2 separate regions of the Homo sapiens genome follow, and region 2 is linked to region 1. A link means that fine-mapping ties the variant in region 1 to the expression of a gene that starts in the linked region. Tissue or cell type: prefrontal cortex. Region 1 holds a variant in brackets; the other region holds the start of a gene. All regions are shown on one strand. Distances are from middle to middle.

Region 1 (4,000 bases):
CTAAAAGAACATTTACCTTGAAGTTCATTTTCTCCCATTTCAACATCAGAATCACTGTCTTCATTACTCTGCAAAGCAGCCATTTTTCTTTCTTGTATCTTTTTCTACAATGTAAAAGGATATTTTTCAGTTCTGTCCTATCTGTAAAAGAAGTGGTTTCCATATGAAACCATTTCTGCACCCCATACCCACCTTGGACAACAGTTCACTGCTCCACTGTCTGACCCCCTTAGGGACACTGATGATGCACTCCACGGCTTTGTTCAGGGTCTGCTGTACATCTTCCAGGGCAGGGGCCATGACGATGTTGGGAATGGCCAGAGTGACGCTTGCCCGGAAAATGGGCAAACTGTTCTGCTTCATGTTAGAGGCACTGTTACTGTCTGAGTTAACCCAAAACAAGGAAGAATTCACATTTTTAATACAAAATAAGATTTGCTTCCTTTGTAACCATAAAAATTAAAACAATACATAATAGGTATAAAATCTAATAAATATTTGTTGAATGAATGAGTCAATTAAAACTAATGGAGGATCTAGTATTGCTCAATATAACAAAGCAGTTCAGGGGAACCCAAGGCATTTTTTGCTGTTTACAGCTTCTTGGAATACTCTCCACAATGAAACCCACTGTGTGGGATCAGGCTAAATTATAAACACTTCTGTAAAATATTAAAGATGATTCTTCCAAATAACAAGATGCCAACAAATTAGCTAAATGTAGCTAAGTAAGCCAGGAATGAAGAACAAGACTATCGGCATAAGCCAAAGTTAGAACAAATAACCACTTTGGAATTTCAGATAAATCATAGGCCTTTCCTACCATGGTGTGTAAAATCCAAATGTGGAGCAGTTAAAAAAATGGAAAAGAAATAAAGTGTAATTCGCCATTCATACTGAAGGAGCTTTTAAGGTTGAACATAGGTATAGGTATGTAGATACAGACATGTATGTATATGTGTCTGTGTATCATGCATAACTTTACGTAGTTGCAAATATCTGTAATAGAAAAGCTGGGAAATAATTGTGATTGAATATTTAGCCTATCAGCCAACATTTATTAAGTTCTAATAATAACGCTGTGCCAAAGAAAAGAACTATTCTCCATCCTGAATGAAGTAAAACATAATAAGCCATGGCACCAAACAAAAAAAAAATCTTTCAGAGTTTCCACTTTTATTTACCCACTTTTAATTAAATATTGAAGATGCTTTCCTTTAAATGTCAATATTCAAAATATATTTAAAAATTTTATTATCCTATTATTTCAGTTTTCATTAATTACTATTATTTGTTTTCTTTTTACCATTTTTAACTTAAAATTTAATTTCAGGATGCCTCTAGATTTGACAGATTTTTGTGGCCCACCTGAGAAATACAACACCTATTTCTGAACTGTGCCGAGGAAAAGATGATGCTATTGAAAATGAGGAAACCACCTGGAAAGTACTAAATTAGCATAAAAATAGTAAAATACATATATATCCTTTGAAGAGTGTGACACTAGTAAGATGTTTCCACTTTGTAAGACTGGCTAACAAACCTAATGATTTAACAATGAAAGAATCGTTTCCATATAACTTCCTTTAAAGTATGTATTTTTTTCTTTCACCAATTAAAATAATTTTATATTTTTTCATCTTATTACAAAAAGATTAAACGTACTACCAATTTTCATGTTATTAACAAAAACTTAAGCAAACTATTTAACCTCCCTGTGCTGTGCTCTAGTTCTCTGATTTAACATGAGAGTAGTAATAGTATCTACTTAATAGAATTGTTGGGATGATCAAAGTTCATAATGTTTAAAATTACGAGAAGGCACTAAATAAACGGTGGATATGGCCAAGTGCGGTGGCTCACGCCTGTAATCCCAACACTTTGGGAGGC[C/T]GGGGCGGGCGGATCACCTGAGCTCAGGAGTTCGCCACCAGCGTGCCCAACATAGTGAAACCCTGTCTCTACTAAAATACAAAAAATTAGCCAGGCGTGGCGGCGTGCGCCTATAGTCCCAGCTACTTGGGAGGCTAAGCTGGAGAATCACTTGAACCCAGGAGATGAAGGTTGCAGTGAGCTGAGATCGTGCCGCTACCCTCCAACCTGGTCGACAGGGCGAGACTCCATCTCAAAAAATAAAAATTTAAAAAAAGATGAATATTTTTAATTATTTAAATTTAACAGGAATGTACATGCACGTGCACACGTGCACACACACACACACACACATACCCCAGCAACTATGCCTGATCATCCACTAAGCAAACCACACAAGATTATTACCCCGGAAGTTAATTGTGTGAGAGGAATGAATACGTTTGCGAATGGCCTCTAGTGTATTCCTTGTAACTTTCAGAAGAGCATCCATGTTCTGATGGTTGAAATGAGAGAGTAACTCGCGGGCTTCTTCCCCTAACATCTCAGTTTCTTTCTTTTTCCTCGTGACTGTCGTCAAAAGCAGGGCATTGGCCCTGGCATTAATAGATGATGTCAAGGTGTCAAAATTTCCTTCTTCTCTTTTTGCTGTTACAAGATGAAAGAGATAGAGATAGAGATAAGTTAGATGGATGGATGGATAGATAGACAGATAGATAGACAGATAGATAGAATCATCTGTTGCAATTAAAGGATAAATTACATGCAAGTTTAGTATCACTTAAACATCACACTTCTTAGGAAGTGAGGACATCAAAAAGTAGGAGGAAATCAGGAACCAGAGGGACTGATGGAAGCATCTCCTTCTCAATACAAGAAAACAGCCAACAAGAGAGGCAGGAGCTATGGCTGGAAAAGCTACAGTGGCCCCCAAGGACCTGGGTTCTGGTGCTACCTCCCACCAATAACCCTAAAACTTTGGGGGGATAATTTCCCTTCTTCACATCCACATCTCTCTGTTCTCCTCTGTCCTGCAAAAGGTGCGCTCAGTCTAGAGGCTCTCCAAGGGGAATTCCAGTCAATAATCCATCCAACTCTATTGATAAGGTAAAATAAAACACCCACCCACACATAAATGCAAAGAAAGCTAACCAGGGCCAATGCAAAGTGCATGTTTGCAAAGTTTAACCAAAAATAGTAGGAATTAACAACATAGAGTCACTAAAATATGCTCAGGGCCATAATTTCAGATTTATACATATCATTAGAAAATCGAGAGGATGTTTATAGAAGTATGAAATTAATTGGTATGTAGAAAATGCAGTTTTAGTTTTTAGTAAATGTCATAGAAAAACAAGACCCTTTCATTACCCCATCTCTTACCTGAACTTTCATTTTTGTAATTAACACTATTCTCATTGGATATTTTTTCACTTTCTTCTTCAGATAAAACTTCCACATCCAGCAACATATTTACAAGCTCATTGACTGCCTCCTCCACTAATGAGCTTTTAAAATGTAGTATTTGTGCACCATTTACACAAAGATCCTAACCAAAAAAAAAAAAAAAAAAAGATAGCACAGTGGTATATGGTTTATCTAGCTTTTGAGAGCACAGAAACAGTGGTAGCAATGCTGTGGCTCAGCCTCCAGGTGAGATTTCAGCCCCAGTGATGCTTGGCCACATCCTTCACAATAGCACAGGCCAGGTGTCCTCTAAAGGAATGTGTTTAGGACAAGAGAACCCACTGGATCAGTGTAGATGGACCAAAATTACAGGCACTTCTCCACCAGTAGAGAAAATATCTTCAAAAGCCATCAGCAGCCTCTCTACTCGTCACATTTCCTTCATATCACATAAATCGGATCCAGCCACCCTTCTTTCTCTCCTTGTTTTTGCCAACAAACCATAGTCATCCCCTCATTAATTTCAAAGACACTACCCACCCTTCTAACTATATTGTGCATTTCTCAAGAATGGATTTAATAAATATAAACTAACATGATTTGAGGCATGGTGATCAATTCTGGAGGAGATTAGGTAGACAGATAGTTATAGATGGATGATATAGACAGAATCAGTGATTTACCACCTGGTTGGAAAGTAAGCCCATGAAACAACAGACTGTCA
Region 2 (4,000 bases), 24 kb before region 1:
TTGAATAAGAATCCTTGAGAATTGGTTAAAATGTTCATTTAAAAATCTCAAAATATACTCCATATATACCCAGTAAGATGATTACGATTTGATGATAAATATATACTTGACATCTTGAAAAGAAGGTCTTTTTGTTTTGGAGATTTTTTCTGCACATTTCCACCCCTCAATTTTACTGTACAGATATAATTGGGTACATTGTATAGTATGCATTACTTTAAAATGTCTGTAGTAGAAAAACTTAGCCTACCATTGTCAAGATAACTGCACCATAATTCTACACTGTTCCAAATTCTACCTTGAAATTATCTAAAGAAGCATATCAATTATGCGACCACTTATTTTTTGTTTTTTTAACCCTCTATCTCCTATCAAACCTCCACAGTTTTACAGCATTCTTACTCTGATTGTCACCCCTTTCCTTTCCACAATTCCTCACTCCCTTTGAAGAATAACAGCATTAACAGTGACAACAAAAAGATTGAAGGAAGGGGGTTCAATAGAAGTGGAATATTATTGCATTATTTAAGGGGGTAATCGCTCTGAGAGCTTTCTCTGAAAAATCTGATGAAATCATAAAGAAGATTACAAAACCTTGGGCAGCTGCTTGGCAATGTCTCCTCCCACAAAGACAGCTTCTAAATAAATCCACAGGTTTTGCACCGTCATCCAGCTCTCGATGATGTCTGTTGAGTTGGAAAGGTACTGCACCCATTTTTGAATCTGGGCTTTGAATGGCATATTGTACCTAAAATAAGAAATAGGTTTAGGGTTTGGTTTTGTTTTTGTTGTGCTGTTGTTTCAAATTAAAAAGGTTTTTAAAAATCTTAATTTTTAACCGCTTTCTTTACAACCTTAATTATGTTGCTGGCTTTTAAAGTGATGCAACCAAGTGATTAATTCATCCCCACTTACTGTTCATTGTTAGTCTAGCTTTTTCCCTTTTGATCCAGAGCATAGAGAAGGGTGGGAGATTTATAATCTAAGGAGTAGATCAGGCATTAGACTTGATTCCACCAAGCTTCCAGGGTAATATAATTACCCTCAGTGCTGCTATGGCTACGAGAATAATATTTGCCCTACTGAGCTTCTGTGCCTATTTCATGGAGTCTCTGGTTTTTCATATAATATGGAGCTTTTATAGAACCATCAGTGGGGACCAGACAACTAATTCAATCTTCAAATATGATAACACCTGGACTCTCTCCTTAGCCTCCCCTTTTCTGAGTCTCTTTCTAACTTCCCACGCACCTGTGTCCAACCCACTCATGTTTGATGTACATGTGTGCAAGATTACTGCCTCTTCCATAGTTAATCTGTCTTCCCCTTTTCCTCTTTGAGACAGACTGCCTGTGGGTGGCCTCCCAATGTCCTTTTTTCCTTCTGCTTTTCCATGTGGGCTCATAATTACCCAGCTAAATTACTGAATTTCCCAGCTTCCCTTTGCAGTAATGTGCAGTCAGAAGACTAAGTTCCACATCAACAGTGCTTAATTTAGCGGAACACTGGAATGATCTCATAGCTGAACACTGGAATCATCTCGCCAGCATTAAAAATTACTGATGCCTGCCTGGGTCCTACGTACAGAGACTCTGATTCAATGGGTCTGGGAAGTGGCCCTGGCATTGGGATTTTTTTAAGTTCCTTCAGTGTATCTGGTACGTTGCAAAGATTGAGAACAACTCTTCTACATGAAATGTGAGTAGTGGCATTGGATGTAATGGGTAGTATGGGGAATAAGGTCACACCTGGGAAAGACAGATGAGTGAGCCAGACCAAGCTTGGGTCCCTGATGATGTGGTAAAGCCCCCATTCCAACCTGAACCACCTACATTAGGAATTCTTTTATGCGTGAGCAATATAAACATCAGTGTTATATTAGCCATTTTGTATGTGGTGTTTCTGTTATTTACAGACAAACTTAATCCTAAATGATTATACAGCCTACCTTTGTGTCTCTTCTTCTCTTTCTTATCCCTTCATGGTTCTCTCTAGCCCTACATAATATGGACTTGAAGTCGTATTATTGCATAAAAGTTTAATTTCCATATTCTTAATTGTTAACCAAATTGTTTTAATATTCCATGCATCTTTCTGAATATTTGTATGCTCTTCACTAGAAATATAGGTCCATAGAAACAGAGATCTTTCCCTTATTTGTTGTTCTACCCACAGCGCCTAGAAGAGTACATCACACACATAGTAAAGGTTCAATAAATATATATTGAAAAAATACTCCTCCCAATAACTCTATCTGTAGATTAGATGCCATTGAAAAGAAAAGTTTCCCCACCCCAACCAGATAATTTTTACTTAATTTACATGAGTGTCTTTTCTATCTCCCTAGGGTATATTATTGCCTGTCTATCCTTTATTCTGGTTTGGTATGAATAGTAACCAAGTTCATTAAAACTCACTAAATCCTGAGAAGTCCAAACTCAAGATTACTAATGGTCTAACTTTATATCCCAATATTACTTTAGTGTAACAAGTAAACTGAAATAAGAGAAATTTTTTTGAAATAGTATGAAGTACACAGTATTTCCAACATTAAAAGTATTGATACACATATATATGGAGAATTGGGTGATATTTTAAAGCTAGAATAGAACAACAAATTCATATCTCAATGGTATCCACTTTCTGCACAATTACCATATATTTGAGAAGATTCTGGGGAACAAAAACATTATTTCAGAAAGAGCAAATGGAAGCAATGAAACAAGGAAATGTAAATTCATGACTGTGTGGTTTGTATGTCCAAAATGTGAGGGGTGGCCACTATGCATTATATACATGTAATGAAAGTTCACATGTGGACAGGCACAGTGGCTCATGCCTGTAATGCCAGCATTTTGGGAGGCCAAGGCGGGCAGATCACCTGAGACCAGGAGTTTGAGACCAGCCTGGCCAACATGGTGAAACCCTGTCTCTACTAAAAATACAAAAATTAGCCAGGCGTGGTGGCTGTTGCCTGTAATCCCAGTACTCAGGAAGCTGCGGCAGAATCACTTGAGCCAGGGAGGCTGAGGTTTCAGTGAGCTGAGATCACGCCATTGCACTCCAGCCTGGGTGACAAAGCAAGATTCCATCTCAAAAAAAAAAAAAAAAAAAAAAAACAAGTTCAAATGTACCCCATAAATTTGTACAAATATAAAAAATAGAGTATGTAAACAACTAAGAGTTTCTAGTCCACAGATATTGGTAAAAAAGGTTTTTCGAGTAAAATGATTATTCTGAAATTCAAAATAATGTTCCTCCTGGATTCTACAGCCTGTAGAGCTATGAGCTGTGCAGTCAGGCTTGTCAGCAGCAAGCTGAAATGTTCCCAAGAGCCGAGTGGCTAATTATACGTTGCATTATTTTGTCCAGTGGATGGTCTCAGACATACCCCACAAATAGAGGATAATGAAATAAAACCAGAGTTACACATGCTCTAACATGTGCCTGAGGCCAAAATGAAAACAAGAATAATTGAAATATAATCTCTTGATGATGTATATATAAGTGGGTACCTGAGTAAAAATATGTTTTGGATATAAAAATTAATTAATCAATGTAATTAAAACAAGTATTTTCAACATTGAGTAAACTATATGAAGGCTATTATTGTAATGGATTTTTCATTAATTTTAAATGTTTGCTATTACGGTTCTCAAATCTAAGGGAAAAGATAGATGGTTTTCCCACCTGTTGCTCAGTAGGGATCCCAGCAACATCAAGCTGTCCTCCATGTTGGCGATGATTTCCGAGGTACTGTCTCCTCTCAAGAGGAGCTCTCCACGGGTTTTAAAGCTGCCGAAGGTGAATGTTTTATTGTCCCATTCATTAATCACTTGCTTCAGCTTTTGCTCAATGTCTCTCTCTTTCACCGCACTGATACAGATGTCCTATCAAAATGGCAAGCTCTCATGTTATTGCATGAAAGTCACACGTCCTTCCTTAATAGTCTACGTGCAATACCCCATCTTCACTATTTGCTTCATATATATATAAATAT

Which allele goes with the higher level. Alleles are on the strand shown, and positions count from the first base shown. SD is a standard deviation of normalised expression in the study named.
With allele C in place of T in region 1, the expression in prefrontal cortex of the gene that starts at base 1,582 in region 2 is lower (moderate effect, 0.50 SD a copy in BrainSeq).

Evidence for each region. PIP is the estimated chance that this variant, and not a neighbour inherited with it, causes the effect. A credible set is the group of variants that fine-mapping cannot tell apart.
Region 2: DNAH5-AS1 starts here. The variant in region 1 is the best candidate, but not a certain one, in a credible set for the expression of DNAH5-AS1 in prefrontal cortex (BrainSeq, PIP 0.81).

Annotation. Positions count from the first base shown.
Region 1 is chr5:13,882,712-13,886,711 of GRCh38, forward strand. It overlaps DNAH5 (dynein axonemal heavy chain 5), which reads right to left. Exons shown (of 79, transcript NM_001369.3): 18 at 3,253-3,418; 19 at 2,278-2,517; 20 at 193-383; 21 at 17-104. All of the region lies in intron 1 of DNAH5-AS1 (DNAH5 antisense RNA 1), which reads left to right. Among named protein-coding and RNA genes, the nearest start is that of DNAH5-AS1, 24 kb to the left of the region's middle. The variant C/T (reference allele first, on the strand shown) is at 1,891.
Region 2 is chr5:13,858,858-13,862,857 of GRCh38, forward strand. It overlaps DNAH5-AS1 (DNAH5 antisense RNA 1), which reads left to right and starts at 1,582. Exons shown (of 3, transcript NR_199035.1): 1 at 1,582-1,698. DNAH5 (dynein axonemal heavy chain 5) reads right to left here. Exons shown (of 79, transcript NM_001369.3): 29 at 3,691-3,890; 30 at 595-748. RefSeq lists an enhancer at 10-1,209.